Linked DNA regions of Homo sapiens. The protein of the gene in region 4 purifies or fractionates together with the protein of the main gene of each other region. This does not show direct contact. Each region holds a gene or a part of one and is shown on either strand. Other genes may lie near its edges.

Evidence for each region.
Region 1: the proteins of RPL22L1 (region 4) and GIGYF2 purify together in Homo sapiens (affinity purification with mass spectrometry; 2 studies listed by BioGRID and IntAct, with this or other methods). This does not show direct contact.
Region 2: the proteins of RPL22L1 (region 4) and L3HYPDH purify together in Homo sapiens (affinity purification with mass spectrometry; 3 studies listed by BioGRID and IntAct, with this or other methods). This does not show direct contact.
Region 3: the proteins of RPL22L1 (region 4) and VMAC purify together in Homo sapiens (affinity purification with mass spectrometry; 3 studies listed by BioGRID and IntAct, with this or other methods). This does not show direct contact.

The regions. Positions count from the first base shown.
Region 1 is NC_000002.12:232,692,392-232,701,624, forward strand, and holds the start of GIGYF2 (GRB10-interacting GYF protein 2), read left to right. Parts: upstream 1-4,939; 5' UTR 4,940-5,001; intron 5,002-8,193; exon of another isoform or gene 8,194-8,263; intron 8,264-9,233. UniProt on the Homo sapiens protein: Key component of the 4EHP-GYF2 complex, a multiprotein complex that acts as a repressor of translation initiation. In the 4EHP-GYF2 complex, acts as a factor that bridges EIF4E2 to ZFP36/TTP, linking translation repression with mRNA decay.
Region 2 is NC_000014.9:59,473,800-59,482,742, reverse strand, and holds part of L3HYPDH (trans-3-hydroxy-L-proline dehydratase), read left to right. Parts: intron 1-3,391; coding exon 3,392-3,561; intron 3,562-6,528; coding exon 6,529-6,651; intron 6,652-6,736; coding exon 6,737-6,874; coding exon of another isoform or gene 6,875-6,949; exon of another isoform or gene 6,950-7,143; coding exon of another isoform or gene 7,144-7,179; exon of another isoform or gene 7,180-8,216; coding exon of another isoform or gene 8,217-8,228; exon of another isoform or gene 8,229-8,943. UniProt on the Homo sapiens protein: Catalyzes the dehydration of trans-3-hydroxy-L-proline to Delta(1)-pyrroline-2-carboxylate (Pyr2C). May be required to degrade trans-3-hydroxy-L-proline from the diet and originating from the degradation of proteins such as collagen-IV that contain it.
Region 3 is NC_000019.10:5,898,949-5,907,895, forward strand, and holds the start of VMAC (vimentin-type intermediate filament-associated coiled-coil protein), read left to right. Parts: upstream 1-5,923; 5' UTR 5,924-5,942; coding exon 5,943-6,133; intron 6,134-8,947. Other genes in the region: NDUFA11 (NADH dehydrogenase [ubiquinone] 1 alpha subcomplex subunit 11), read right to left, coding at 4,664-4,760.
Region 4 is NC_000003.12:170,862,693-170,867,456, reverse strand, and holds the end of RPL22L1 (ribosomal protein eL22-like), read left to right. Parts: intron 1-932; coding exon 933-1,077; 3' UTR 1,078-2,582; downstream 2,583-4,764.

The DNA.
Region 1 (9,233 bases), on a different chromosome or scaffold from region 4:
TCCTTCCACCTCAGACTCCCAAGTAGCTGAAACTACAGGTGTGTTCCACCACACCCGGCTAATTTAAAAACATTCTCTTTATTTATTTAGAGACAGTCTTGCTCTGTTGCCCAGGCTGGAGTGCAGTGGCACGATCTCGGCTCACTGCAACCTTCGCCTCCCACGTTCAAGCGATTCTTACGCCTCAGCCCCCAAGTAGCTGGGATTACAGGCTCGCACCACCACGCCTGGCTAATTTTTGTATTTTTAGGAGAGACGGGGTTTCCCCATGTTGGCCAGGCTGGTCTCAAACTCCTGGCCTCACTAAGTGCTGGGATTACAGGCGTAAGCCACTGTGCCTGGCCTAAAAACATTTTTTTTTTTTAGAGATGAGGTCTTACTATGTTGCCCACACTGGTCGGGAACTCCTGGCCTCAAGCAATCCTCCTGCCTCAGCCTCTCAAGTAGCTGGCATTAGAGGTGCGAGCCATCTGCACCAAGCATGGGGAACACAGTTCAATCCATAACAATGATGTTCCAGCTACTGTTGCTATTAACAAATTACCCCAAAACATAGTGGCTTAAAACACCCATTTTATGATGCTGATGGATTTGGTGGATCAGGAATTCAGAGAAGGCACAGTAAGGATGCTTGTCCCTGCTTCATGATGTCTTAGGCTTTGATGTCTGAGGGTGACTAGACAGCTCAGGGCTGGGATCACCTGGTGAGATTTTTCACTCAGACGTCTGGTTGTTGATGCTGTCAGCTGGGACCTCAGTTGGGGTTAGTGATGGGACAACAATGTGGGCCTCTCCATGTGGTTTACGCTTCAGGCAGCTTCAGGGACTGCCAAACTGTTTTTGCTTCAAACAAGACTGTTTCAGGAAGCAAGGTGAAAGGCATATCACCTCATGATCTAGCACTGAAGTCATGTCATTTTACTTCTACCACTTTCTATTGGTGATAGGGTCCAAGGGACTGGGAATTAGACTCTACCTCTAGAAAGGATAGTGAAGGTGCTAGAAAAGTAAGTCAAATGGAAGATATTGTTGCAGCCATCTTTAGAAAAATACAATCTGTCACAGGTGATGACCCCTGGCAATTTTTTTTTTGAGACAGGATCTTGCTGTGCTGCCCAGGGTGGAGTGCAGTGGTGTGATCCCAGCTCACTGCAGCCCTGACCTCCCAGGCTCAAGCAATCCTCCCGCCTCAGCCTCCCAACGTGCTGGGATTACAGGTGTGAGCCACCTCGCCTAGCTATGTGCTCATAACAAATTAAACTTGTTTTGGATTAAACTCCTTACCCTCCTCCCATCCTCAAATGATCTATTATTCTCAACTTCTGTTTCTATCAGTGGTGTACTACGGCTAAAACTTTATTATCCCTGACAAAAGCATGCATCAGTCTACGTTGTAATTTAATACCACTATTTAGTGAAACACTGGAAAGACAGAGTTACTAAAAGGAGAAAAGGAAAGCACCCTTCCTGAAGAGTAGATAATCAAGAATCGATTGGGTTTTATTGGTGTTTGTTGAGCATTTACTGTGTGTCAGGGCAATACCAGCTGCAGAGGTTGCTGGATGGAATAATGCAGCACTCACAATGGTTAAAAGCTGGGATTTTCTCCAGCTTTTTTTTTTTTTTTTTTTTTTGAGACAGGGTCTCACTCTATCACCCAGGCTGGAGTGCAGTGGCACACAATCTCAGTTCACTGTAACCTCTGCTTCCCAGGCTCGAGTGATCCTCCCACCTCAGCCTCCCAAGTAGCTGGAACTACAGTTCTACATTATCATGCTCAGCTACTTTTTTTTGTATTTTTAGTAGAGATGGGGTTTCACCATGTTGGCCAGGCTGGTCTTGAACTCCTGAACTCAGGTGATCTGACTGCCTCAGCCTCCCAAAGTGCTGGTATTACAGGCGTGAGCCATCGTGCCTGGCCACTTGTATATATTTGTCTCAAGTTGCAGAACTGTGCACTAAAAGTGCTAAATTTTATTGTGTGCAAATTATATCTTAATTTAAAAAATATATGTATAGGCAATGTACAGGTGGCATGGCATCAGAGAGGTGGCATGACAAGTTGGTTAGGGACATGGGTTCTACAATTTGCCAGCCTGGGCTTGGAAATCCTGGTTGAGATTTGGATATGGTAAGCACTTCTCTCAGAAGCCTGGTTGGATTGCTCCATAGCGCTCTTACTAGGATCACATGAGACAGTGCAAGGAAAGTTTTTAATGGGGTGGTCAGTACATAACAAGTATTAGTATTACTTTTTTCCTTAAAAATAACAGCTCAAGGGGTAAATTCTTTGGTCTAATGGAGGCACAGAGGCAGTAACACATGGACTGGCAGGAGTTGCAGGTTGGGGAGAAGTGGGTAAGTGTTGGGAACGGCATTGCAGCAGGATGGAACAGCATGTGCAAAGGCTAAAACATAATGTCATGTTTACGAATCTTTTAACATGGGCCTATCTGGAGCACTTAGTTCAGGGGGAAGATCAAGGAGAAGAGAACAACATGGATGATGGGTAGAGTTCTTTTTGATTGTTTGTTTTAGATACAGGGTCTTGCTCTTTTGCCCAGGCTGGAGTGCAGTGGCATGATCATAGCTCATTGTAGCTTTGTATTCCTGGGCTGGTGATCCTCAGCCTCCCAAGTAGCTAGGACTGCAGGTGCACGCCACCACGCCTGGCTAATTATTATGTATTTATTTTTTTTTAGAAATGGGATCTCTCTATGTTTTCCCAAGCTATGGGGGTAGAATTCTGCAGAATGGGACTGTGAAGGGCTCCTTTGAGTTTCTGTATTTCTAACAAGTCTCCACGTGATGTTGATGCTACTGTACCACTTTGAGCGGTAAGGGTATAAAAGTCAAGGGAAGAAAGTGTTTCAGAAGGCCGGGAGCGGTGGCTCATGTCTGTAATCCCAGCACTTTGGGAGGCCGAGGTGGGCGGATCACCTGAGGTCGGGAGTTCAAGACCAGCCTGATCAATATGGAGAAACCCCGTCTCTACTAAAAATACAAAATTAGCCGGGCGTGGTGGCATATGCCTGTAATCTCAGTTACTTGGGAGGGTGAGGCAGGAGAATCGCTTGAACCTGGGAGGCGGAGGTTGCGGTGAGCGGAGATCACGCCATTGCACTCCAGCCTGGGCAACAAGAGCGAAACTGTCTCAAAAATAAATAAATAAATAAATAAAGTGTTTCAGAAAGTAGGAAGAGGCCAATCATATTGAAGACAGGGAAACACGAAGTCAAGATGAGGACTGAAAGACTCCAGTTATCAACCTGTAGGATGGGGTGTTCTTAGGGCAAGCAATAGGCAGATAGGAAAGGACAGAAGCCACATCGGTGTGGTTGATGATTGCATGCCAGGTGTGGAAATGGAGAAAGTGCATATAAACAATTCTTTGGTGCAGCTTGGCTTTGAAAGGGAACAGGGTCGCAGGAGGGAGAATTGGTGTTTTTGATTGTTTGTTTGTTTATTTGTTTTTTTCGAGACGGATTTTCACTCTTGTTGCCCAGGCTGGCGTGCAGTGGCGCGATCTTGGCTCACCGCAATCTCAGCATCCCGGGTTCAAGCGATTCTCCTGCCTCAGCTACCCAAGTAGCTGGGATTACAGGCATGCGCCACCACGCTCGGCTAATTTTGTATTTTTAGTAGAGACGGGGTTTCTCCATGTTGGTCAGGCTGGTCTCAAACTCCCAACCTCAGGTGATCCGCCGCCTCGGCCTCCCAAAGTGCTGGGATTACAGGCGTGAGCCACTGCCCGGCCGAGAATTGGAGGTTTTTGTTTTTGTTTTAGACGGAGTCTTGCTCTGTCGCCAGGCTGGAGTGCAGTGGCGCGATATCGGCTCACTGCAACGTCTGCCTCCCCAGTTCAAGCGATTCTCCTGCCTCAGCCTCCCGACTAGCTGCGACTGCAGGTGCGTGCCACCACGCCCGGCTACATTTTTTTTTGTATTTTTAGTAGAGACGGGATTTCACCGTGTTAGCCAGGATGGTCTGGTCTCGATCTCCTGACCTCGTGATCCGCCCACCTCCGCCTCCCAAAGTGCTGAGATTACAGGTGTGAGCCACTGCGCCCGGCATGAGAATTGGAGTTTTTAACATTCCATTTTAAGATGGGAGACACAAGTAATCTTTAAAGCTGACAGGAAGGATCCTGTAGGAAGGAAGAAGTTGGAGACACAGGCAAGAATGGGATGCCTAAGGATAGAGTTGCTAGATTTAGCAAACACAGGACGCCCAATTAAATTTGAATTTCAGAAAAACAACGAACAATTTTTCAGTGTGTGCCCCAAATATTGCTGGGTGTCTTGTATTTTATCTGTCAATTCCAAAATAGTTCATCTCTAGGTAAAAGGGTTATAGCCCCAGATGTCCTAGGAAGGAATCAGAGCTCTCAAGTCCTTTCCAGCTGTCCCAGTACAACACTCTGAAATGAATTCCCAGTTCTACCAGAACTGTTAACAAGTAGAGAAACTGCTTTGAATTTCAGCTTTTGCGGCTTTCCCATTCGCTCTAGGATGGCAACTGCGAAGAAAAATGCCGGACTAAAAGCTGTGGAAAAGTTCTAATTTGGAAAACCAGCCCGCAAGTGATGCAGAGGCTTTTGAACTGCAAAAGAGCTCTGGGCGTACAGGACAGTGAGTCACACGGTGCCTGGTCCGGGCCCAACCCTGGACACCAACACCACTCAACTCAAGGGCAGGTACCCGGCTGCTGCCAAGGGGTCAGCGGGAGCCTGCGCACTGCCACGGCCCCGCCCTCTTCCAACCTTTCATCCGGGTCTCGGGCAGGGGCGTGTCTGGGCAGAGGGGCGGGTGGTGGCGGAAAGGAAGGATGTCGTGGGAGACTGGAGAGTGGGGAGGGAAGCGGGAAGGGGCGGGGGCGGAGCAGGGGGCGTGGCGGAGCGGGAGCGCGGTCACGTGACGTGCGTGGCGACGTGTCGGCCATCTTGTGTTGTTGAGGCTGAGGACTGACTGGGGTTCTGAGACTCCCTGTCCCGGACCGCAGGTAACCAGCCGTTCCGTGTCGCTCCCCTGCCCGGCTCTGCTCCGCGCCCCGGCCCCGCCGCCGCGTCCCGGGCCGCCTGTGTCTCCGGTCCGCGTTCGCGCCCCTGCTCCTCCTGCCCGAGCTGGCCCGGCCGCATGGACACCCACAGGCCGCTCCGGCCGGCTTGGGCCGTCAGGCGACGGGACAGGTCAGGTGCAGGGCCGGAGGGAGCCTCCTCCTGGGCGAGGGGCGCTGAGGGCCCTGGCGCGTCACGGCCGCGAGGAGCCGAGAAGCCCCTAGGCCAGGGCCTCTTGGCATTGCGAGGGGAGCCGAACAAGGCAGGAGGGTTGTGGGGTGGGCAGTGTCAGGCCGGCTTGCTCGGAGCTGGAGGGCTCGCCTTCCTCTGCTTGCTTCTCCGCGCCAGACACCCGCCCAGTCTCGGGGTGGCCCGGTAACAGCTGCTGCGGCCAGACAGCTGCTCCTGCCGGCTCTCCTGTCCACACCTGGTCCCTGGGAGGTGCGCTCCTGCCTTCCCCACAGAGCATCTGGACGGAGGAGACTCCTTCCGTGGCGAGAGTACTGGGTCTGGACCAGGCCTGAGGCGAGGTGCAGCCACCATGATCGGAACCTTGGGACCGAGGCTGGGAAACTAGAGCCCATGGCAGCCTTGGGGACCCAAATGTTCACATCAGGTTGAAATGGGCATTATCCTTAAGTGTCAGTTTCCAAAAGCACTCTGAATACTTGTTTTGCGACTGAAACATAAATCAAGCGAACAGGGAATGGGGGCATGAAAGAAGCGGAGCGTATGACCGTGTTTGGGAAGCAATAACGTTGTTTTGCAGTTAATTATTTAGTACTGTGTTTTTTATTTTGTTGTTTTCGTTTTCCTGCAAGTCAAAGCACTTAAACACACGTAGTCTCTCTGTAAGAAAGGTAAGTATTCCAGTTTAACTTGCAAGAAATTGAGTATGGGGCTAGAAGCTGTGAACAGCTTCCTTTCTAGAGCTACATACATTGAATTAAGGCAGTTTTGATTCCCAATGTTGTGCCTGGGGAAGGTATTCTTTCTTTATATAGTATGTCCTTTTTAGAATCAAATGACTTCCTAGATTAGAAAAAAAAATTCTGTCATTCTTTCTGTACATTAATTTTGCTCCTTCTAATATTTGTAGCTTTGGCCTTATTTTGTCCATTTTGCCTAGAACACAAATACTTTCTCTTATTCATTGATGGTTTTACGTGTTTTACTAGTTGGTGTAGCAGTTTCTGATGTGCTCAAACTGGAATATGTACTTGGCTTTTACATCAGATGTTGACAACAGAAGAGGACACTAGAAAAGTATTTAAAAGTGGCACGTAACTGGAAAAATGTCACATGATGTTTCTTTCGAAATTTAACATCAAGGAATACACTGGTGATGGTAGTGCTTCACCAGAAAGGAGAGGGCTTCATGACTTTTTGGTACCTGACAGCATTTGAGACTCTTGAGGTTTGGGAGGGAGAAGGAACCATGTGCTTCCATTCATTTGTTTATTCATTCATACATTCATTTATTTGACAGATACCCTGTTGAGCACTTACTACACTGTTAAGTACTGGGAGCAAAACAGACCAAACAATTCCTGTCTGTATGGAATTCATTTCTAGACAGATAAATAGGTAAAATACTTGATGTAGTGGTAAGCGATGTGAAAGAAAAAAATGAGTCAGGGAGATAGAATAATAGGGGTTTGGGGAGGGGTTAATTTTAAGTGCCCTGAGAAGGCCTCATGGAGAAGCTAACACTGGAGGAAAAACCCAACAGAGGTGAAGGTGCTGTTTCTTTAGCTATACTGGGGTAAAAGTGCTCTAGGCTAGGGAGCAGCAAGAGCAAAGACCCGGAGACAAAAGCTTAGGAGCGATTCAGGAGTAGACTGGGAAAAGCATGGAGGCTAGCCTAGGCTGAGAGGCTAGGGTGAGTGGGAGACTGGTGGGAGATGTGTGTACTTACTGTTTGGTACTAAGATGAGATGGATTATTTGCTATCCTGAATTCTTTTTTCTTATCTCTTGTGATTCTTGGAAAGGGAAATCAGATTCTGGAAATTTGGGCCAGCAGCCAGCCTCCCCAACCCCCTTAACTCCCATCCCCATCCGCTAATTTGGAAAAATTTAGGATGCTCAGTATTTCAGGAAATTATAATGAATTATCTTTCTCAAAAGTAAACGTTTTAAAATGAGATTGATGATAAACTGCTTGAAAGTACTTTTCAAAAGCAATTGCTTTACAAGAAGGAGGCTCTTTGGAGATTTCAGGATATTTGAAAATGTAGGGAAATTAGAAATTTTCCTTTCACATTTAGACACATGATTAAGGAACATACCAGGAAGAAAGGTGGAAACAATGTATTAACTCAAATTATCCTTAATCTGGTTAGTAAAGAATTTTTCTTAATACTGTGCTGTCCAGCCCGGAGACTCTTCCTCTAATTCATGTGTATATCCTTCACATTTTACACGTGTAGAACTTTTTGTGCTGAGTTTTTTATTCCTCCACTTTTACCTTTCAGACTAGTTGTCTAGTCTGATACTTAATAGACATATTTTTTTGCAAAAAACATTTTCTGATTTCCTTCCAGTTTATCTCCATATTCTTTTTACTGAGCTTTCATAAATGTCCTCTTTCATTTTAGTTCAGCTGAGGAATTTTAATATTTTGGTTTTGAAATGCTTTTGCTGGTGAGATGCATATGTGAAAAACACTTTGGAGTAGGTTTGCCTCAAAATCATGAGAAGATGGAAATTACAAGGTCAGTGTGTGAATGCAACTCCTTGGCTAAAAGGGAGGCATAGTGATGGTAGTGATGAGGTAGTGTTTTAACTAATTGCCTTTCTTCCTCTTGTTTTTCTATTGTGTTTTTGAAATGACATTTCCAAATTATGTCTTTGATGTCATATCAGCTCATTTGTTTTCATGACTCTGCATTTTAATACTCCATATTGTCTCTTCTCTTTTTGTTGACCTTCACATTGGAAGATGACACTGTTGATAGTGATTGCTATCTGGGAGAACCTTTTTGGGTAAAAAGATTACTACTGTCGCTTTTATGATTGCCCTTCTGTAGGATCTTTGACTTGTGCCATTTTCAAATTTTGACTTTGTTTGCAGTTCTCCATTAGCTCCTGCTGATTAAATTTCCCATACTTTCTGTTTTATTCTATTTCTTATAGATTATAGTGGGACCAGTCTCATTAGGTTGAATCTACAGCCTATGTTGGTGTTAACCCAGGTCTCTTAGAGGCAAGTTAAATGTCCATTTTCCTTCAGTTTAAATTACCATGGCATATTGTTTGGTCATTGTTGTAACAGTCTGAACTCAAGCTTTTTTTCACTGCTTGATTCCCACTAGGGTTTTGTGGTGATAAAGTCCTATGGTTTTTGCATGGGAGAGTATTTAAGAATAAAAGGAAAAATATATAAAATGAAAAAGAAATAGAAGTTTAAAATAAGATAAAAAAGTCCTAGAGTTTCCATTCATTTTTAATACTTTGAAAAATTACATCTCTTTAAAACTAGAGATTTTTATTTCATGTATAAACTTGCTTATAGTTAGCATTGCAGTGTTTCTTGACCAAATATTGTTTTTACATTTTATTCATGCTCTCAGATGAATGAGAAATATACTAAATTAATTATGTAGGAATGTAAAGTGATACCTTTATTGAATTGCCTATAGTTTTGTGTGAGGTTGAAAGCAGAAAGAGGTTTGAAAAACAAAGAATGTTCTCTTAATTGACCAAACTTCATTTTATAAAGGTATTTCAAAGTATTACATACTTCCCTACTTTAAGTAAATAAGGAACACAATTTTATATTTTCTTGTTAACTATGGGGTTTCATTAAGCTTAATTATTATTATTATTTGAGATGGAATCTCACTGTGTTGCTCAGGCTACAGTGCAGCGGCCTGATCTTGGCTCACTACAGCCTGTGATAGAGCAAGACCCTGTCTCCTGGGGGTTTGGGGTTGCAGTGAGCCGTGATTGCACCGCTGCGCTCCAGCCTAGGTGATAGAGCAAGACTTTCTCCAAAAAAGACAGGGTCTTGCTCTGTCACCTAGGCTGGAGGGCAGCGGTGCAATCACCACTGACTGTAACCTCAATCTCCCAGGCTCAAGCCATCCTCCCACCTCAGCCTCCTAAGTAACTGGGATTATAGGTCCATGCCACCACATCTGGCCAATATTTTTTGTAGAGATGGGGTCTCACTA
Region 2 (8,943 bases), on a different chromosome or scaffold from region 4:
TATGAATGATAACTGATAGAACAGGCACTTTTAGAGCAACCTTAGGCAGCTGAAATCCACGAGTTAACGAAGAATGCCTCTGGAGAAATTGATGCCATTTTCCCAGAGAATGGTGTCACTTCCAGACTGGGAGGCCACTTGAGGGAGACAGAATTTATGTTTACGATTCCATTTTTAAAACCTCAACAGTTTAACTAGCGTGGCTACCAGAATTCCCCCTAGGCAACTCCAGCAGCAGAGTAGAAACACTCTAGACTTCTGTAGGAAATGGCAGCTGGCAGCAGGAACACAAACTACATCTCATTTCTGGGTCAGTTAGGGCAGGGTCAGTCAACCACTTGACCTCAGTAGTTCCTCTCAGTAGTTCCTGAGAGCATCACTGTATGACAGTACAATGATTAGTGGGCATTAATGGTCACTGAGTTAAGAAAATGAAATGCTATATTCTCTACTTTGAAAAATGCATACAAGGCAGACATAGTGTTCAAGGTCACTGCCCCACCTCTCCCCATCTCAGTGACCTTGTGCTAGAGAGTCCATGCCTCAGTATCACAGTCTGCAAAATGAGGATGACAACAGTACCCACCTCAGAGGGTTGCTGAGTTCATCTCCACCCCACCAGGCTAAAATGCAAACTCTTTCTTGTTCACAGTATTCTAAGTGCCTAGAAGAGTAGTCAGTCAATGAATGTTTGTTGAATGAGTAACTAAATAAATGAAATTTGGAGAAGAATATGCTGATTGACAAATGTAAACATCTGGTCCTCTTGAGAAACCTATTGCCACTGGAAATTAAAGTTTTGGCTTTCGAGTCCCTAATCTGTGCCAGGAACTCCCCATACGTGGAATTTTCAAAACAACTCTTTTAGGAGAAATAGCAGTTACAGTTTGCACAAGACACCAAAGCCACACTAATGGCAGAACTAGGGTTGGAACCCTGGCCTATCATATTGCTTCCCTCTCATCCTTAAAATTTTTTGTAGTTTAAGGAGATATGTTTCAATTTTCTAGAATAGTGCTTAGTGTATTTTAAAGCATTTTAAAATCTGTCTTGTCCAACTAAACTCCAAGAAGGGGAAAAGCCTATGTTTTATTCCTTGTACTTCTCGTATCTTCTACAGTAATCGGCACATAGTAGGTGCTCACTAAATCTTGAGCAAAGTAAATCAAATTGAAATTTCAGTGATATGCTTGTATAGAAGAAAAGAAAAACCCTTAGATTTTGGATTGTGTTCTGGATAGAGGTTGTATATTTTAGTAGAAAGGGTTTGGGCTTTGGAGTCACCTGGTCCTGGGTTTGACCCCAAGCTCTGCCACTTATTTAGTGGGTAAACCAGGGAATAATGTAAAGATAGTAAGTAAAACAGTACCTACCTCTCAGGGCTGTAGTAATTAAGGCACTAATGTAATGAATTAAGGGGCTAGTGTATGTAAAGACCTGCCACATAGGAAGTACTCATGGGTGAAATAAATATCTTAATTTTTAATGTTAGTAATTTAGTGATTAAAAAATGAAATAGTCACAGATAATTGGTGGACAAGAGTAACTTTAAAGGAAATTTGGTCCATTTTAAAGAAAAGGAAACTGAAACTCAGTGAGGTGTAGCACCCTACCCAACTGCCCACCCTAAGAAAACCAGACCCAAGATTCTAGAAAGGTTGGGCCAGGGAAATGATTGTAGGCTCAGGGATGACTTCTCCTGAACCAGCTTCCCAATTTCATCCTGGTCCCGGGATTGGTGGCCAATGCCCCATTTAGTTGTTACAATCAAGGGAAGAGGGCAGGCCGACTGAACCCTGGGACCGTCACCTGTGTCTCCTGGTAAGTGCTGATCTTCACCCTCACTTTAGCTTTCCACCTTCCAGCAGTCCCTCATTTCTATCAACTTGCCCATTCTCTTTTCATTAAACTTGCTTTTCATGTTGCGCCAGCATCAAGATAAAGACATTTTTTATTCAGTTTTGTTGTTACAATCCACAGCATGTTTTACTCTTTTGATTATAAACTTGCTCTGTTTTAACACATCATGGGTTAAAAGGGCTTCTGTGGACTAGTGTGGACTAATAGCATACTGATAGCCTTCTGTGGACTGATAGCATACTGATATCTTTGTATGACCTTGTATGAAAACTCAGGAACACAAGATATATTTTCTTTCCCAAAACTTAATTTCTGAAGCTGAAACTCTACTCTGTCCTTTTGGTTCACTTAGCCTCATCACTCCATGTGTTGTCCCCTTTCCTGATATGTGTGAGCAAAGGTTTCTTAAAAGTGCTGTGGCCTTGGAGAGGATGGCACTTCAGTCCTCAGCTTACACAGTTAACCAGCAAAGTGGAGCAGGAGCATTGGCTGCCCCACCCTACCTGGTCCTTGCCCTCTGCACTGCCTCCCCATCCTCTGTTTCTTCACTCCTGCTCCTGTGGTGCCCTGGGGGAAGTTAACACACGTCCTCTCTGCACTAAGGACCTTCAGCCTCCACTCTTCTCAAGGGAGAAAAAATTTATCTCTAGGAGAAATATTTCTCCCTTCAGGACACTCCTTTGCCAACAGATGTCTTTCCCCTGAGAGCTTAGGCTTCCCTAAAATAAAAACATGAAAGACAAGCTTTCTCCCCTGCCATAGGCTTCCCTAAAAGGCAGTGATCACCAAGCTAGCTTAAATTAGGGAAGAGGAAAATTTGAGAAGGGGCGAAATAAACATCACCCAGCCCCCTTTCTTTGGAAATACAGATTCAAGATTTCAAACTACTGACCTTCAGGTGAAACTTTGGGGATGTTGAGACTTAAAATGCTCAAATAAAAACCCTGGTGCAAAATGATGCTGTAGCAGTCAATGATTCTACAATGGCATTTTTCTGTGTTTGCCTGCAGGATACCTTAAGGAGATGAAAACATGTAGATAAGTGTATATAATTTATATAGAAAAATCTTTTATTAAAATTTATGTTTTGACATTACGGCTGAAGAAAATTGATTTGTAAATAGGATCCAAGACCCTCACTATTTTAAACCATCTCTCATAGTACAAGTGGGGAATAGACATTTTCCTTCTTAGTGTTCACAGGGATGCCCTTGGGTTTCCCTCTCTCGGCCTCAGGGGTGTTTCCTAGAAAAGATCCTCAGGGAAGTTAATGAATATGTCTGTATGAGTTAGGGAAAGCATGGCTTTAGTTTATAACTTCTGCAATCATCAAGTTAAAAATAGAATGATGCATCTAGCTATTATTCACTCGATGCTTATTCATTTAAAAAACGGATTTTTACTTCATTATTTTTATGATAGGAAAAGAACATCCCTCTTGAAAAATAAACATATTAAAAATCCTTTGAATTTTATTGCTAAAATACTTATTAACAAACACATCTTCTTTCCAAACACATCTTTTTTTTAGATCTCATGGTGGATGTTCCTGGACATGGAAAGGTGATGGTGGACATTGCATATGGCGGTGCATTTTATGCATTTGTTACTGCTGAAAAGTTAGGACTAGACATTTGTTCTGCAAAGACCAGGGACCTTGTGGATGCAGCGAGTGCAGTGACAGAGGCAGTGAAAGCTCAGGTCAGTAATACTCTGCCTTCATAACCAATTCCCTTCTCTGTGGCATGGAGGAAATATACATTATTATGTCTATAAAGAAAATTAAATGATGTTTAAATTATTAATAGTACTAAGAATAGGGTACTTATTAAAATCTTAGGCTCTAGAGCAAGCTTGTCCCACCCGTGGCCTGTGAGCCACATGCAGCCCAGGATGGCTTTGAATGTGGCCCAACACAAATTTTGTAAACTTTCTTAAAACATTATGAGTTTTTTTGCAATTTTTTTTTAGCTCATCAGCTCTCGTTAGTGTTAGTGTATCTTATGTGTGGCCCAAGACAATTCTTCTCCCAGTGTGGCCCAGAGAAGCCAAAAGATTGGACATTCCTGCTCTAGAGCAAAACTATCTATGAGTTCTAGCTTTACCACTGGTAACGTATATAACCTTGGGCAAGTTACGTAACCTCCATATGCCTCAGTTTTCCTGTCTGCAAAATGGAAATTAAAAAATACCTGCTTTGTAGGGTTGTGAGAATGAAATAAGTCAATACATGTAAAGGACTTAGAGTAGTGTCTGGCCAATAGTAAATGTTCAGTAAATGATAATATTATTTTTTTTGAGACAGGGTCTTGCTCTGTCACCCAGGCTGTAGTGCAGTGGTGTGATCATAGCTTACTGTAACTTCAAATTCCCAGGCTCAAAATGATGCTTCTGCCTCAGCCTCCAGAGTAACTGGGACCACAGGCATGCCCCATCACACCCAGCTAAATCTGTGTTTGTGTGAGTGTGTGTGTGTGTTTATATAGAGACAGGATGTCACTATGTTGCCCAGGATGGCCTCAAACTCCTGGCCTCAAGTGATTCTCCCAGCTCGGCCTCCCAAAGTGTTGGGATTACAGGTGTGAGCCACCACACCTAGCAGTTACTAAATTTAATAATACATACATACTAATATAGTTTATAGTTCCTTAAATGTGTAGAAATATATTTATAGAATTCTGCAAATTTTAAATGCATGTGTGTGGTCATTCTGTTAAACTTGAAAATAATAAATGTAAAATATAGTGTACAGAATAGATTTAAGCCTTTTTCTTATTTCATAGAGAACATTAATTCCTATTATTTTTTTCCTACATTGCTAAGAAGTTACTCAAATAACTACTTAAATAACTCTAGTTTTTACTTGGGAAAGCTAATTTGATAAAATCAGTTTAGATAATAATTCTAGGATATTCTTTCACTTCTAGCACGAGTGAAGCACATTTTACCTTGAAATTGGGACCTATAAATAAAACACATGTACAGTATTTGAATGTTTAGTACGTGAGAATTTAGTATGTGAGAATTTATTAGTAGTAAAAAGTAACTTGTGTAAGATAGTGTCTAATGTACGAATAATTATCATTTTCTGAAGCTTTATTTTAAAATAATTTATAACTTAAAATGAGAATATACACTGTATCAGTATTCTAAATTATTTTTCTGGTACTGCCAGTACCAATATGTGCAATTATATTATGATAGCAACTTTTGAAGCTCTGAATTTACATCAGTTTTCTGTTCCATTAAGCAGGACAGCTAATAGTCTGAGTTAACAATTTGGCACAAAATAATTTCTCCTAATTTTTCATGAATTCAAGAGAAAAAGTCATGGATATCTTAATAAAAGGTGTAATTTTGTACTTCTCATTTGAGTTTGAACTCAACAAGATGGCAAGGGGTGGACTTTGAGGGAGGAAGGATTCTGAGAAAAATGAGGACAAGTTCTGTTATTGATGTATCAGACAGTACAATTAATTACTCTGTGAACTGTTGACTATTCACACTGCTGAAGCAGATTTAGGAAAAGGCCATGGGGATGGAGAGTTAAAGTTAATATAAATTCATCTTAATTCATTCACTCTTTTAACAAACATTTACCACAAACATACTGTATATATGTTAGACATTCTGCTAGATCCTGGAGACTCGAAGAAAGAACAAACCCCACCTTTGAGGAGCTAGCTCCAGTTGGGGAAGCGAGCATACCTGTGAACAGTGTTATGTTGGAATGTGCTATAGTGGAGGTGGGGCGTATCACTTTAAGAGGATGGAGAACAAAGATTCAATCTGCAGGCCGCTTTAACTTGGTTTCAGATGGACTCTTTGGATGTTAAGAACCCAAAGCTGTTCCATTGCTTTAAATGACATGTAACTGGAAGTAGAAAGTACTAATTGTAAGCATATACAAGGGAAGTCAGATTATAGCAATCTCAGTCATACTGTAAATGTTTGCAGAAATCCAGGAAAAGTTAAAGAACTAGACTTCCAAGAACAAGTAGCTTTGCATATTTGGGCCTGAATCTACCATTGAGTGACTTAGCTACCCTGCCAGTGCCTGCTTCTTTGTGTGCATATCTGCTGCTTTTTGATGAATCAACTGACTTCATCGTCTACAATAAATCTTTTTTTCCTCCAATTGTTTCTCTTGCCTAATAGTTTCTGCATTCTTACAGAATGTTATATCCTCTCACAGCCTTTGTCTCTATCATTGGTGTTAACTTCAGCTCTAGATACTCAGAGCCTGATTTTCCCACATTATCCTCCTTAAGCTCCTGAGAATAAGACTATGATTGCCTTAGCTCATCCTGTTTGAGCAGCCATCGCCAGCCTGTGGATTGACCATCCTGGGGTCAGTGCTGCAAAGACTATGTGTATTTGGGGTGGGAGGGGTGTATAAAATAGGACTGCTTTTTTAGCAAAGGCTATATGCAGGACAGCTTCCTTAGAAGGGACTCAAAGTATGATAAGAATTATAAATTGCAGTAAAACTATGTTTCTTCATCTAGACAAAGACATAATTTCTAGCAATTAGTATACGTTGCCCAAAAAGGTATTTTAAAAATGATAAGGATTAAAAAGTTATGTCTAAGAATGACCCATCTGCATTATTTATAAATTTGAATCAAAATATTTATTTTGCATGTGATCTTTTTTTGTTACTTGCAGTTTAAAATTAATCATCCTGATAGTGAAGACCTTGCCTTTTTATATGGAACTATATTAACAGATGGAAAAGATGCTTATACCAAGGAACCAACCACCAACATTTGTGTTTTTGCAGATGAACAGGTATTAAAACTGTAATGTTTAGGGACAAAAGCCAGGTAATATGGAACACACTATGAACATTCTGTCTTCATTTATTCTGAAACAGGTTGACAGAAGTCCCACTGGCTCAGGAGTGACAGCCCGAATTGCCTTACAGTATCACAAAGGGCTTCTGGAACTGAACCAGATGAGAGCCTTCAAAAGCAGTGCAACTGGCTCAGTATTCACAGGGAAAGCTGTGAGGGTAAGTGGCACCCTTAGCTTCTTATTTATAAATGTGTCACTCATGAGACTGGAGAGGCCTGAGTTGGGTGTTTGATAAATTTCTTCACTCAGCTCTCAGAAGAGAATTTTAAAGCAGGCCTGTAAAAACTTCTTTTCAACTAGGACATTGGTTATCCAGTGTGGTCTTGGGGCCCCAGCGGGCCCCTAAGGTCCTTTCCATGGGTTCAGAGGGTCAAAACTGTGTTCATAATAATGACATTATTTGCTTTTCACTCTCATTCTCTCAAGAGTGTACAGTGGGGTTCTTCAGAGGCTACGATGTGATATGTGATAACCCAACCAATTGAATGCAGAAGCTAGATATGAGAACCTAGTTGTCTTCTGTTAAGCCAGACATGAAACAGGTTTGCAAAAATATCAAACAATGCCACTTTTCTCATAATTTTTTTTGTTTTGGCAAACAGTTATTTTCACAAAAATGTGTTATTCATATGTTAATGTATAATGGGTTATTTTTAAAATGAAGTAATGAACAGATATATCCAATTCCTAATACAGTAAATATTGATAGATATAACTTATATAAAGAAAAACTCTTTGGGGTCCTCAAATCTTAAGGTATAAAAGGGTCCTAAGACCAAAAGGTTTGAGAACCATTAGGATTTGGGGTTTTTTTTTGTTTTTTTGTTTTATTTTATAATAGTGTTTTATTTGATATAATAGGATGTGAAAGCCCTGAAAAGTTGTGGAACATCAAATTTTTGTAATGGAATAAAATTTTAAATGTGCTAACAGCTAAGTAATGAATCTTATCTCAGTAGTAAATGAAATCTACTACAGAATGATCTACATTCAGTAAATTATTCTACTCATAAAGAGTCCTTTAACATAGCAAACAATCTATCCTAATATAGCTGTTTTTAAGATTTGGTGTTTCTGAATATTAGAGTTTCCTTAAGGATCTCTACATCATATAGTGATCTGAAACATGTGAAACCATTTATGTTGTATGCAAAAATTTGGAACATACTGTCTTCAAAATCTGAAATGGAACATAAAAATAACAACATACATTTATTGGATACTTCACTGTGCATCAGTTTCCAAGCTAAGCACTTGATACATGCCATCTCATTTAATCCTCACAAGAATCCTACAAGGTCAGTACTGTGCTGTTATTATCGTTTTTCAATAGATGATAAAACGGAGAATTGGAGAAGTTAGGTAATTTACCAGAGGTTAGTTAGTGAGTAGCAGATCCAGGTCATGAAGGTGGGTCTCTGAACAGACCACATGCTGTTAAGCATTATATTATATTGCTGTCAGACAAAGCAAAAGGTCAATGAGGCTTTATATTATAGGAGCTGTTATGAGAAGAATCTGGGATTGCAATGTCCCCCCAAATAGAGAGGGAGCCGAGAGACCAAAGAATGACTCAGACAAGTCCAGGTTGGCAAGTAGATGCATTTATTAGAACTTCCATATAAGGCACTCCTGGGAAGCAGCTGAACAACTGTGGAGACCCATCCTGCCTCCTGACTCTAAGCTGCTTTTAAGCTAATTTTCTGGCTCTTTGCCTACTGTGTATGTGTGATAGGACTGTTTTCCTTGGTATGTTCCCAGATATTCTCTGGGATATTTGGGTTCTCAGGGATACCTGCTTCTTGGCTGGGCACCATGCCCTTGGCTTACCCCCCAGCCTTCAGGGTTCAAGCAGTGGACATACACCCTTACATAACCTGGTGAAGGACCTGTCACACTACAGCAGCTTTATAAAAAGATATAAAAAGATAAAGTATTATACCCTAACAATATTTGACATTTTACCTTTAGCTTCAGTTATTATTCTTTTAAAAATTAGAACATAAAAAGATATGCTGAAGTTAATGTTTCCAGTTACTTGTTTTATAGTTATTGATCATGCTTGCCAGAATGTCTTCACTTGCATCATGCTCTCTCCCTGTCTGTGTGGGCCCGTCCAGGCTCCCTGATGGTACCTTCTCAGTTTCTTCCCCTGCTGCAGCTTCCTTTCCCTGTCCTTCCATTTAGATGTTACCGTCACTTCATCCCCACCTTCCTTCTCATCTC
Region 3 (8,947 bases), on a different chromosome or scaffold from region 4:
GGGGGTTGCTACTGCATCCACGGTAAGGGACTGGAGTCCAGTACAGCCGTCCCCCCAGGACTCCCCACCTGCTCCTGGCCCAGCAGCCCCATCCTCAGTCACACTTCAGTCAGTGCACACACACACACACACACATCCCCCCCTTCCAAATTCTTTTATGTATTTACTAATTGAAAGAGAGCTGGAGTCTATGAAGATTCTTTTTTTTTTTTTTTTCTTGAGATAGAGTCTCGCTCTGTCGCCCAGGCTGGAGTGCAGTGGCGCTATCTCGGCTCACTGCAAGCCCCGCCTCCTGGGTTCACACCATTCTCCTGCCTCAGCCTCCCGAGTAGCTGGGACTACAGGCGCCCGCCACCACGCCTGGCTAATTTTTTGTATTTTTAGTAGAGACGGGGTTTCACCGTGTTAGCCAGGATGGTCTCCATCTCCTGACCTCGTGATCCGCCCGCCTCGGCCTCCCAAAAGTGCTGAGATTACAGGCGTGAGCCACCGCGCCCGGACTCTTTTTTTTTTTTTTTTTTTTTTTGAGACAGTCTTGCTCTGTTGCCCAGGCTAGAGTGCAGTGGTGCAAACTTGGCTCACTGCAACCTCTGCCTCCTTGGTTCAATTTTCCCACCTCAGCCTCCTGAGTAGCTGGGATTACAGGCGCCTGCCACCATGCCCAGCTAATTATTATTATTATTATTTTTTGTATTTTTAGTAGAGACGGGGTTTTACCATGTTGGCCAGGCTGGTCTCAAACTCCTGACCTTAGGTGATCCACCCACCTCAGCCTCCCAAAGTGCTGGGATTAAAGGCCTGAGCAACCATGCCCGGACTTGAAGATTCTTAATGGGAGGGGACTGCCAGCCCTGCCTGGGACCTGAAAAGTCCTGATCCAGGGCTGGGCCAGCCATGACAGTCTTATAACCCTCTCATCTCAAGAGGGAACCACCGACAAGACTCAGTGACGCCCCCAGAACTGTCACCGAGGGACTCCTGGGCGGAACCTCCTTACACCACCCCCACATGCCAGCTGTCCTGACCAAGGGACCCCTAGCTCATGGAGCACACCTGACACGGTGAGTGCGCCCACCATCCTCCATCCCTTCCAAAGTCCTTGAACTGGGAGTGGACGAGCTGGGACCCCCTGATTATCCCATAGAGGTCAAGGACTGCCCCACCCCAACTCTGCCCCAGCTGTCATCCAGCTGTGGTGTCCTGCCATATCCACCCCTCCAGGAGCCCCCAGCGCCCTTCAAAAGGCCCCCTTCCCTCTGAAGGGAAACTGCTGGTTTCCTCTGAGCCTCCCACAGTGACCGCCAGACCCAGTGTGAATTCATTCATTCATTCAGCTACTGCCACTCATTCATTCATTCACAAAGTTACCGAGTACCTAACAAGGTGCCACATTCACTCATTCATTCACTCACAAATGGTGCCCACAAGATGCTTCATTCATTCATTCATTCATTCATCCATAGTTATCATGTGCCCACAGGTCCTGGGCTCTGCTGAGTATAGTCTCCCCGCCGTCCAGGGTCCCCAACTCAGGGAAGCCAGCCAGGAAACAATTTATCTCCCTCAGATGAGAAGTGAGGGGAGCCCCGGAATGAAGTGAGTGGGGCAGTGAGGGGAGGACCCAGAAACACGTTTCAGCAAGTTCTGCACAATGAGTGGAGCTGGTCACTGAAGAATTTAGGGAGAAGGGTGGGTGCAGTGGCTCACGCCTGTAATCCCAGCACTTTGGGAGGCCAAGGCGGGCGGATCACCTGAGGTCAGGAGGTTGAGACCGGCCTGGCCAACATGGCGAAACCTTGTCTCTACTAAAAATACAAAAATTAGCCAGGCACGGTGGCAGGCACCTGTAATCCCAGCTACTTGGGAGGCTGAGACACAAGAATTGCTGGGAGGCAGAGGTTGCAGTAAGCCAAGATCGCACCACTGCACTCCAGCCTGGGTGACAGAATGAGACTCCGTCTCAAAAAAAAAAAAAAAAAGAAAAAAGAAAAAAGAAAAATTTAGGGAGAATGAATGTCACTCTCAAAGACCCCGGGGCACCCTTGGAGGGCTCACAGAAGCCACTGAGCACCCCTAAATCTAAATCTGATGCCATCAGCGATCTCCTGACATGGCAACTCTGTCAAAAGTTCTGACCTCCCCTTCTAAGACCCTCTGGGGAGCACCCCCGGTCTCAGAGGCCCTTCACTCAGCAGCACCACACCCCGAGACAAGCTGTCTCCTCCAAAGGCCTCCTGAGACCGCAGCCCACTCATTTTGTATTCACACATGAGGAATGCACACACTCTCTCACATGAACACCAACATACGCGTCTTTCTCAGTTTCAGATCCTATCCCCTGGGTGGCCCCCTTCAGCCCTTTCTCTTGAAGACCCTCGATAAGGACCTGATGGGAACATTCCTTGCTTCAGAGACCCCTAGGAGCAGGTCAGCCGACCTGGACTTGCAGCCCAGCTTCAAATGACCCTGGAGCAGTTAATATGCTTCTCCAACCTTCAGTCCCTACCTGTAAGAAATGGAGACACAATAACGTCTGTCTTACTATTAATAAATATGCAAAATATGGGAGTGATGATTAGGTCTGCCCTAATTCAAATGCCTCCCAATGGAGCCGCAACTTTGGCCGGGCCCTGTTTCACATATGCTGGAAATACAGAGTTGACCAAATTGATTCCTCAGCTTATAGACACACCAGGTTGTAAAGACTGTTTCTTTGGGTTTTTTTTTTTTTTTCTTTTTGAGACGGAGTCTTGCTCTGTCGCCCAGGCTGGAGTGCAGAGGCGCAATCTCGGCTCACTGCAAGCTCCGCCTCCCAGGTTCACGCCATTCTCCTTCCTCAGCCTCCTGAGTATCTGGGACTACAGGTGTCCACCACCACGCCCGGCTAATTTTTTTTGTATTTTTAGTAGAGACGGGTTTTCACCGTGTTAGCCAGGATGGTCTCGATCTCCTGACCTCGTGATCCACCTGCCTCGGCCTCCCAAAGTGCTGGGACTACAGGCGTGAGCCACCGCGCCCGGCTGGTTTTGTTTTGTTTTGTTTTTTGAGACAGCGTCTCACTCTGTCGCCCAGGCTGGAGTGCAGTGGCACAATCTCGGCTCACTGCAACCTCTGCCTCCTGGATTCACGCCATTCTCCTGCCTCAGCCTCCCAAGTAGCTGGGACTACAGGCACCCGCCATCATGCCTGGCTGATTTTTTGTATTTTTAGTAGAGACGGGGTTTCACCGTGTTAGCCAGGATGGTCTCAATCTCCTGACCTCATGATCCGCCTCCCAAAGTGCTGGGATTACAGGTGTGAGCCACCATGCCCGGCCTATTATTTTTATTTTTTGAGACAAGGTCTCGCTCTGTCGCCCAGGCTGGGGTGCAGTGGTGCAAACATAGCTCACTAGAGCCTTGAACTCCTGGTTTCAAGTGATCCTCTTGTCTCAGCCTCCTGAGTAGCTGGGACTACAGGTACGCACCATCATGCCCAGCTAATTGTTTTACTTTTTTGCAGAGATGGGGATCTTGCTATTTTGCCCAGGCTGGTCTGGAACTCCTGGCCTCAAGCGATCCTCCCACTTTGGCCTCCTGAGCGCCGGATTACAGGTGTGAGCCACCGCGCCTGGCCCAGTTTGTAAAGATTCTTCATCAGAGGGAAGAGGACTTCCAGCTCCATCTGGGACCTGATGAGTCCCAACCTGTGGCTGAGAATTAAAGGGCATGATGCCCATGAAACGCTCAGGCTGGAAGGGGCAAGACTCAGATTTACTCTATAAGAGAATGCCAGGGCCGGCCGGGCATGGTGGCTCACGCCTGTAATCCCAGCACTTTGGGAGCCCGAGATGGGCGGATGGCCTGAGACCAGGAGTTCCAGATCAGTCTGGCCAACACGGTGAAACCCCGTCTCTACTAAAAATACAAAATAATTAGCCAGGCGCGGTGGCGTGAGCCCGTAATCCCAGCTACTTGGGAGGCTGAGGCAAGGGAATTGCTCGAACCAGGGACGTGAAGGTTGCAGTGAGCCGAGATCTCGCCACTGCAGTCCAGCCCGGGCGACAGAGCAAGGCTCTGTCTCAAAAAAAAAAAAAAAAAAGGAGAATGCCAGGGCTTGCGGGTCCCCTTCATTCCCCTGCAAGGCTACCCTCATAGTAGCTCCTGATCCACCTCACCTAGGACCTCTCTGGCGGTCCCAGTAAAAGCTTCAGGTGTCCCTAACCACCCAGCACCCCCTGACCACAGAAAGACCTCATCCCACCCCAAAACTTTCTCAAACATCTGTACCGCCCTCAGATGCCCCAATCATGACTCATGATCCCCTCTAACAATCTCTACCCCGTTGGAAAGTCTCGTGGTCCCTTAGCTCCTTGGACCTGATAATAGCCCTGTCTCACTCCACAATTTCCCCGAGCCTGGCGATAGCTTGGGACCGCCTCAGATGACCCCAGGGACTAGCTTGTCGCATGTCACGACCTCCCAGTGCTCCCCAACCCTGCTGGACCCCCTACCAACATCCATTTCACACAAGATCCCCCCCTACGACCGCCCAAGACACCCCGATGACAACCACGTGCGTACCCGCGAGACTCCCAGACCCGTTCGATCCAAACAGCCCCCAGTAACCCCACGACCTCCCTGCGGCCTCGGCCCTCCACCCTCGGGGCCCGGCCGGCGCTCACCAGCGACGCTGGCAATACTGGTGGTGCTGTAGGCTTTGCGGTGGCAATCGGTGCCATCGGGGATATCCCAGTACTGACGAAAAACCTTCGGCGCCATAGCCCGCAATCTCGATCCCGCACCACGGACCCCGCCAGCTCGGGAAGCGCAAGGGCAGCCGCGGCTGGCTATCGCGAGACTTCTCGGGCTGCGCGCGCAACCTTTCGGGCTAGCGGGCCGGCAACAAGTGAGCAACTTTATTGATAGGCGCGGACATGGACATGGATCGCGCGCACGCGCCGGGGACCGGCCTGGAGGAAGAGAGTAGCACGTGCATCCCCAGGCCGATTCCTAGAGGGTGAAACTGAGGACGACTGCGATCAGTGCAGACAGATTTCGCTAGTCCCAGCTCAGGGAGTCCTAGGTTAGGGACTACTAGAGGCGGGGACTATCTACTAGGGGAGGGGCCGGGCTCAGACTGGGACGGGCGGGACTCCAGTTGATAGGAGCAAGACATGACGAAACAATGACTGGGGGGCGGGGCATGGCGGGGATGTGGCCACACCCAGTGTCAGAATCTGCATAGCGAGTGGTCATGCCCTGTGGTCAGTCACCAAGCTGGAGTCTGAGCAGCGTGCTACTGTTTTGGGCCGTGGACAGGATCAGGGGCGGGGATTATCGGGAAAGTGACCAATGACAATACGAGAAGCTCAGCGGGACGTGGCCTCTGTTCACCCCGCGGCTGTCCCACGCCCTAGGCCGGATGAAGTACACAGGCGCTTGACTTGGGGGCGTGGCTAGAATTGGAGGCATAACCTAAAAGGGACTTGACCAATCTGAGACTGTATAAGGGATGAAGGGGCGAGGCCGTGCCTGGATCTACCCCTGACAGGCCACAGGTTCGGGGGGCGTGGTCAGGCTTGCTGTTTCGCGGAGTCCGGGCCAATCCTGGTGTTAGCTTCCAAGTAGGGAGGGGACAGTATCGAAGGTGTGACCAATCTTGTTTCCAGAGCCTGAGTTGCGCGAGCCGCCAAAGGATGTGGCCAGCCTGGGGGCGTGGCTGTCAAGATCTTGTCCAATCCTAGAGTGAGCCCAAACTCAGGGGCGGAGTTTCATGATCCCGGAACCGGTGGTAGTGTTTGGGTTTGAGGAGAGCACGACCCAGCCCTCTGGGGTGGGGTCTAGCGGGGTCAGCGACCAATCGCGCCGAGGTCTAGTGGGGCGGGGCCCTCCCGGGGGCGGGGCCTGTGCCAGTTCCGGGCCGCCTGGGGGCGTGGCCGGGCCTGTACAGCAGCCTGGGCCATGTCGGCGCCGCCGGCCCTGCAGATCCGGGAGGCAAACGCACACCTGGCAGCCGTGCACCGGCGCGCAGCGGAGCTGGAGGCGCGGCTGGACGCGGCGGAGCGCACGGTGCACGCCCAAGCCGAGCGCCTGGCCCTCCACGACCAGCAGCTGCGCGCCGCCCTAGACGAACTGGGTCGCGCCAAGGACCGGTGAGGCCCGGGGCCGGCCAGGTGGACTTCACCGAGGCGGTAGGCGGAGGCAGAGCCGAGGCTGGAAAGCGAGGAAGGGCAGGGGGAACCGTGTGCACTTGTATAGACGCTAGACTGAGTATCGGATTGATAAAAACACCAAAAAACTCGAATTAGTAATCAGTATGTAAAGTTGCGAGAAGTGACACAGGTGTGGACCTCTAACTTCAAACAGGCCCACTTTCCCACAGGTGCTGAGCGACGCAGGGACCACAGACCGCCCAGCGTAGGCATTGGGAGCCATAGCAGGCTCTTCAGCAGGGGAGGAGGGGATCATATCAGCATTTTAACTTTTAAAATTTATTATTATTTTTTTGAGACGGAGTTTCGCTCTTGTCGCCTAGGCTGGAGTGCAGTGGCGTGATCTCAGCTCACTGCAACCTCCACCTCCCAGATTCAAGCGATTCTCCTGCCTCAGCCTCCCGTGTAGCTGGGATTACAGGCGCCCGCCACCACGCCCGGTCGATTTTTTGTATTTCTAGTAGAGACTGGTTTTCGTCACGTTGTGCAGGCTGGTCTCTAACTCCTGACCTCAGGTGATCCGCCCGCCTCAGCCTCCTAAAAGTGCTGGGATTACAGGGGTGAGCCACCGCACCCGGCCTAAATTTATTATTTTTGAGGCAGGGCCTCACTCCTATGCCCAGGCTGGAGTGCACCTCGACCTCCGGAGCTCAGGTGATTCTCCCACCTCAGTCTCCCAAGCAGCTGGGACTACAGGCGTCCACCACCACGCATGGCTTATTTTTTGTATTTTTTTGTAGAGACAGTTTTGCCCTGTTGCCCAGTTTGGTCTTGAACTCCTGGGCTCAAGCAGTCCTCCCACCTCACCCTTCCAAAGTGCTGGGATTACAGGCTAAGCCACCATGCCTATCTATTATTTTTGAGAGAGGGTCTTGCTCTGTTGCCCAGGCTGGAATGCAGTGGTGCGATCTCGACTCACTGCAGTCTCACCCTCCCTCCTCAGCCTCTCAAGTAGCTGGGATTACAGGCGTGCGACAGCACACCTGGCTGATTTAAAAAAAAAAATCCTTTAGAAATGGGGTCAGACTATGTTGCCTAGGCTGGCCTTGAACTCCTGGGCTCAAGTGATCCTCCTGCCTCAGCCTCCCGAAGTGCTGGGATTATAGGCACGAGCCACCATGCTGGCCCATATCAGCATTGTTGAAGAGTCCCTCTGACAGCTGAGGATGAAAGAGATGAGACAGGCACCCAGGGAGGTGGGAGGAGCTGGGTCCCAGGTGGGAACTATTACTTCAGAGCTAATTGGACATATTCATTTTTACCGAGCACCTGCTCTGTGCCAGGCACTCATTCATTCGTCTTCATTGAGCACCTACTGTGTGTCAGGCATTCTGCTGAGTACTGGAGCACATCAGTAAGACTTAGCCTTGCCCATTGGGTATCCACAGTCCAGTGGAGAGACAGACATGTCACTGGGCAGTTACATCATTGGTGGCCAGCGGCCATGATGGAGGGGCATATGGGGCTCTGAGGGATCTCAGAGTGAAGGCTTCCCAGAGGAAGAGCCTACTAAGAATAGGTGGGAAAAGATAATGGAAAGGAACGAACTGCAGGAAGAGTGAGGGGACGAAATGAGGGTTCTCATAAGAAAATGCCATAAACTGGCTGGGTGGTGGCTCACGCCTGTAATCCCAGCACTTTGGAAGGCTGAGGCAGGCAGATCACCTGAGGTCAGGAGTTCGAGACCAGCCTGGCCAACATGGCGAAACCCTGTCTCTACTAAAAATACAAAAAAATTAGCTGGGTGTGGTGGCACACGCCTGTAGTCCCAGCTACTCGGGAGGTTGAGGCACGAGAATCGCTTGAACCCAGGAGGCGGAAGTTGCAGTGAGCCGAAATTGTGCCACTGCACTCCAGCCTGGGCAACAGAGAGAGACTCTGTCTCAAACAAACAAAAAAACAAAATGCCATAAATTAAGTGGCTTAAACAAGAGGTTTGTTTCTCAGCGTTCTGGAGGCTGGACGTCCGAGAGCAGGGTGCCAGCATGGTCAGGTTATGGGAGGGCCCTCTTCCGGGCTTGCAGATTTCTGGCTTCTCTCTGTGTCCTCACAGGGCAGAGAGAGCCAGGGAGTTCTTTTGTATCTCTTCATATAAGCACACTAATCCCATCATAGAGACCCCCACCCTGACAACCTCATCTAACCCTAATCACCTCCAAAAAGCTCCATCTCTAAATACCCTTCTGCTATGGTTAGACTTTGTGTTTCCACCCAAATGTCAGCTTGAATTGTAATCCCATAATGCCCACGTGGTGTGGAAGGAACTGGTGGGAGGTAAATGAATCATGGGGGATGGTTTCCCCTTCATGCTATTCTCATGATAGTGAGTGAGTTCTCATGAGATCTGATGGCTGGGCGCAATGGCTCACGCCTATACTCTCAGCACTTTGGGAGGCCGAAGCGGTCAGATCACCTGAGGTCAAGAATTTGAGACCAGCCTGGCCAACATGGTGAAACCCTGTCTCTACTAAAAAAAAAAAAAAAAAAAAAAAAAATTAGCTGGGCATGGTGGCACACGCCTGCAGTCCCAGCTACTGGGGAGGCTGAGGAGGCAGAATTGCTTGAACTCGGGAGGCGGAGGTTGCAGTGAGCCGAGATCACACCACTGCACTCCAGCCTGGATGACAGAGCTAGATTCCGTCTCAATCAATAAGGGAGATCTGATGGTTTTATAAGGGATTCCCCCTTTGCTGGTCTCTCACTGTCTCTCCTGCTGCCCTATAAAGAGGTTCCTTCCATCATGATTGTAAGTTT
Region 4 (4,764 bases):
GCTGTAAGGGCATAAAACTAGTTGCAGAGTTTTTGGGTACGTTGGTAAGTTGGTCAGGAAATGAAATGCAGAAGTGAGCCTTGCAGTTGTTACAGGCAGGATGAACCAGAAGCCTGGCAGATTAAAGTAATAGTAACAAAGCCAGTGTGTCTGGGGTATAGTGTTCTGGGAGGAATGCATGAGATTGGAGGGTGTCTGGGGAGCAGATCTTGAAAGCCATGGGATGTGTAATGGGAAGCAATTGTTTATTGTGGCTGAAAAAGACTAGGGTGATACATCTGGTGGAAACTGAAGATGTAAGAGCTAATTTCAGTGAGAGACAATGATGGCTTGGACTAAAGTGGTTGCAGTACATGTTAACTGAGATTATAATCACTAAGGATTCAGAGATAAAAATGTAGTAGCTGTAGTAGCTGTAAATCAAGTATCTTACAGATAATCAGATAATTATTGTAAAATACAACTCTAGTTACATTAGATGTAGAGAGAGCCCAAGAATTTTCAGAGAAGTTGAGACTTAATGAGCATAGTATGGGTTTAACCCTATTATTAATAGGTTGCCTGTTGAGCCGGGGTGGGATTGGGAGCTAGGGGGCTTGATAGTGGTGAAGGAGGTGTTAACGTTTTCACATATATATACACAGATAATATATTTGAAGAGTGAAATCATATTGCTTAAATAATTTGGCTGTAGCAGTTTGACAAGAGAATGCTACCCTAACAATCTTGAACAATATATAGTGTGGCAGTATGACAAGAGGATGCTACCCTAACAGTCTTACACAATACATCCTGTGAATGGAAGGATGAAATATTTTGGAGGAAGCTAGGTACAGAAAAGATGAATATGATGATGTATATTTTTCGTATAGTAAACCTTTACATAGTAGGAATTGTATTTCTTAATGAAATTTATGTTTTTATTTTAAAAGGTATTTGAAATACCTTACCAAGAAATACCTTAAGAAGAACAATCTTCGTGATTGGCTTCGAGTGGTTGCATCTGACAAGGAGACCTACGAACTTCGTTACTTCCAGATTAGTCAAGATGAAGATGAATCAGAGTCGGAGGACTAGGCAAAGGCTCCCCTTACAGGGCTTTGCTTATTAATAAAATAAATGAAGTATACATGAGAAATACCAAGAAATTGGCTTTTAGTTTATCAGTGAATAAAAAATATTATACTCTTGAACTTTTGTCTCATTTTTTTGAGTATGCTGTTTATATGATTTTGATTTCCCTCTGATAACTATCAACAGTATTTAAATAGCTTATAGCTGGTATAATTTTTTCCCACGATTTCCAAAATCTTTTATGTACTCAGGTAAAAGTAGCGTTATATAGGAAATCTTTTTTTTAGACACTCTCGTTCTGTCACCCAGGCTGGAGTGCAGTGACTCAGCTTCCTAAATAGCTGGAATTACAGGTGTGAGCCACCATGCCCGGCTAATTTTTTGTACTTTTAGTAGAGTAGGGTTTGGCCATGTTGGCCAGGCTGGTTTCAAACTCCTGACCTCAAGTGATCTACCCACCTCGGCTTCCCAAAGTGCTGATTATAGCTGTGAACCACCATGCCCGGCCAGGAAATCTTACTGTAGAACAATTTTTTATATAGCTGTATAAAATGTATATGATTGTCTTGACAGTCTCAAATACTGTTTTTAATAGCTTGTAAATGTAATCTCAAGTGCTTAGAACAGTTCTTACATATAAGTTGCTCTGTAGTTTGCTCTTATAGTTAGCCCAAAGACTCTGGGTGTGAGGCCTGCTGTAAACCAATGTTAAACTGCTTATTAGAAAGCCCTAACCACCTGCTTTGTAGGCACCAGAAACTCAAAACCAAATCTCAACTCAGCTACAGAATCTACTGTGGTCCTTGTCTGAAAAAATTAGTTCACTCGGTTGGAATCTTGTCTCAGAGCATCCTCATCTCTTTCTCAAAAGCCCCTACCCCAACACCGGCGTGTTGGTTGTCTATTGAAACTTACAAGTGGATGGACCCTTTCTCCCGAATAAACTGGCCTTTGAAAGCTCTAATCGAAATGGTTTGGCAAAATCCATACTGCAGGAGATTAGGGAGGACAAGAATGATGTGCCTTTTTGTACTGCTGAGCCTGATGGTGGTGCCACTACTTCAGGTACTTAGATGAGTCTTGATGCTAATAGAATTGTGTCGCCAAACATATCTGGACAGTTACAACCTAATCTATGCATTAATTGGTTTGGGAATTGCTTGAAATTATTGTTTAATTCAATGTTTTAATTCGTTTTCCTAAAAATTTAAGTGCCCCCATCATCGTGCAATACCTCAGTGCAGCAACTCCTTGATTCTTGGATGACTGAACTTCCTAACTTGGCTCTGCCCCATTGTTCCCATTTTTCATGTTTTTCACAAATAGTTAACCAGGTACCTACTACTGTGCACCGCTGCAGAGCATTGAGGATGTATGTGATGAGTAAAAACACCCAGCCTGCTCTGCTGTGTTAGTATTATGACGGAAACTGATCAAATCACATGTGAACAAATTTACTGCTACAAAAGGGAGGGCTTAATAAAAGGAATTTCATCTGGGAAGGCAAATGAAGTTTGTGAGCACTTTATAGAACAGGGAAGGTAGGCAGTATCTGGGAAGGGGAAAGTAGGGCATTCCAGACAGAGGGAGGAGCACTTCTGAAGTTCTCAGGGCATTGGGAGTCTGGTTGGCCAGAGTACATTCTGGAATAGATGTGATCATGAGGATAATCTGGAAAAGTAGAAGCTAGCCAATGCAGGACTGAAGTCCATGTTTTCATCTTGAGGGCAATGGGAGCTTGTAATGAAAGTAACGTGACCTGATGAGATATGCATTTTGAAAAAGATCAGACTGTATTGTGGAGAATGGATTTGTTGTTGTTTTGTTTTTTGAGATGGAGTCTCACTTCGTTGCCCAGGCTGGAGTTCAGTGGCATGATCATGGCTCACTGCAACCTCCACCTCCTAGGCTCAAGTGATAATCCTGCCTCAGTCTCCCGAGTAGCTGGGATTACAGGTGCCTATCCCACGCCCAGCTAACTTTTGTATTTTTTTTAGTAGAGATGAGATTTCACCATGTTGGCTAGGCTGGTCTTGAAATCCTGACCTCAAGTGATCCACCTGTCTCGGCCTCCCAAAGTGCTGGGATTACAGGTGTGAGCCACCGCACCAGACCTGTTCTCAGTATTTTACATGAATTGAATCATTTATCATCATAACATTCTTTTGAGATAAGTATTAATATCCACATTGGCAGCTAGGGAAACTGAGGAACATAGAGTTAAGTAATTCGTCCAAAGTCACACAGTAAGTTATGCAACCCAAAGTTGAGAAAGAGGGTAGCTTTGGGAAATCGGACAGGGACAATGCAAATTTTAAGGTTAAATTGCATTTAGGAAGTAATGAACAGTGAGGATGGGTGAAATTGCCTGACAGAAATGTCATGATCTGATCTAGTTTAGATTACAGTGAAGTATTTCGTTAGTCTATGACAAGAAGGAATGAGAATGCAGAGAATCTCTTAATCAGACTATGCATTTTGAGAATGTGACTTCACAGTCGTGAAGCTGACTTTATTCTGAAGGGCTGAATATTCTGAAAGAGAGCAAATGAGAATCAAGTATTGACAAACACCAATTGCTTCCTCCATTCTTTTCCTAGAGTGATCTTTCAAAAACACATCTGATATTCACATGTTTAAAATTCTTGAAAGCTAATTTAGCATTTAATATTTATTATGTGCCAGGGACTGGGTATATTATGTCAAGTAAGATATTCATGCCTTTAAGGTGTTGGGAGGTTTGTTAAATAATAAAATTTATTGAGGGCTACTGCAGGCCAGGTACTGTTTTGGATACTGAAGTAAACAAAATGGAAACTCCTGCCTTCATGAAGATTACAATCCAGCGGAGGAAGACAGACAATAAAATAAATAAAGTGTATGTTACATGGTGGTAAATGCTATGAAGAAAAATAAAGGAAATAGGGAATGTAGGAAGGAAGGTGTGTTACATTTATAAGTAGGATGAGGGAACATCCTCACTATTCCCCTCCTCACTTTACTGAGAAAGGCTCATTTGAGTAAAGACCTAAAGGAGATACTGAATCTAACCAAGTAGATGTCTTGGGGAGAAGTACTTCAGGCATAAAAAATAGCAAGTGCAAAGGCCCGAAGGCACGAGCACCCCTGGTATAATCAAGGAACAACAAGGAGGCCTCTATGACCTGAGCTGAATGAATGGTGGAGAGTAGAGATTAGAGAAGTAAAAAGAGGTATACATGGGGTGTGGAGAGTGGGATGATGGTATATGAGTTATCGATTACACTAAAGTGTAGCAACTTGAAAGAAATATATCTCACATTTCCTGAGGCTCAGGAATTGGAGCAGCTTATCTGCATAGCTCTGGTTCAGGGTTTCATGAGGTGGCAATCAAGCTGTGAGCCTGCACTGAAGTCATGGGAGAGTTACCAAACTACTGCCTGTTTTTGTAAATAAGATTTTCTGGGAACACGTTAATTTTCATGTTGTGTATGATGGAAAAGTTGAGTAGTTGCAATATAAACCACATGGCCTGCAAAGCTCGAACTATTTACCATCCAACCCTTTAAAAAAAGTGGCTTGACTGAAGCTGGAAGATCAGCCTCCATGCACACTGACAGAGCGGTTGGCAGGAGAATTCAGTTCGCCGGAATTCTTGCTATGTGGCCTCTGTATGACACTGCTGATAACATGACAGCTGGTTTCCCCCAG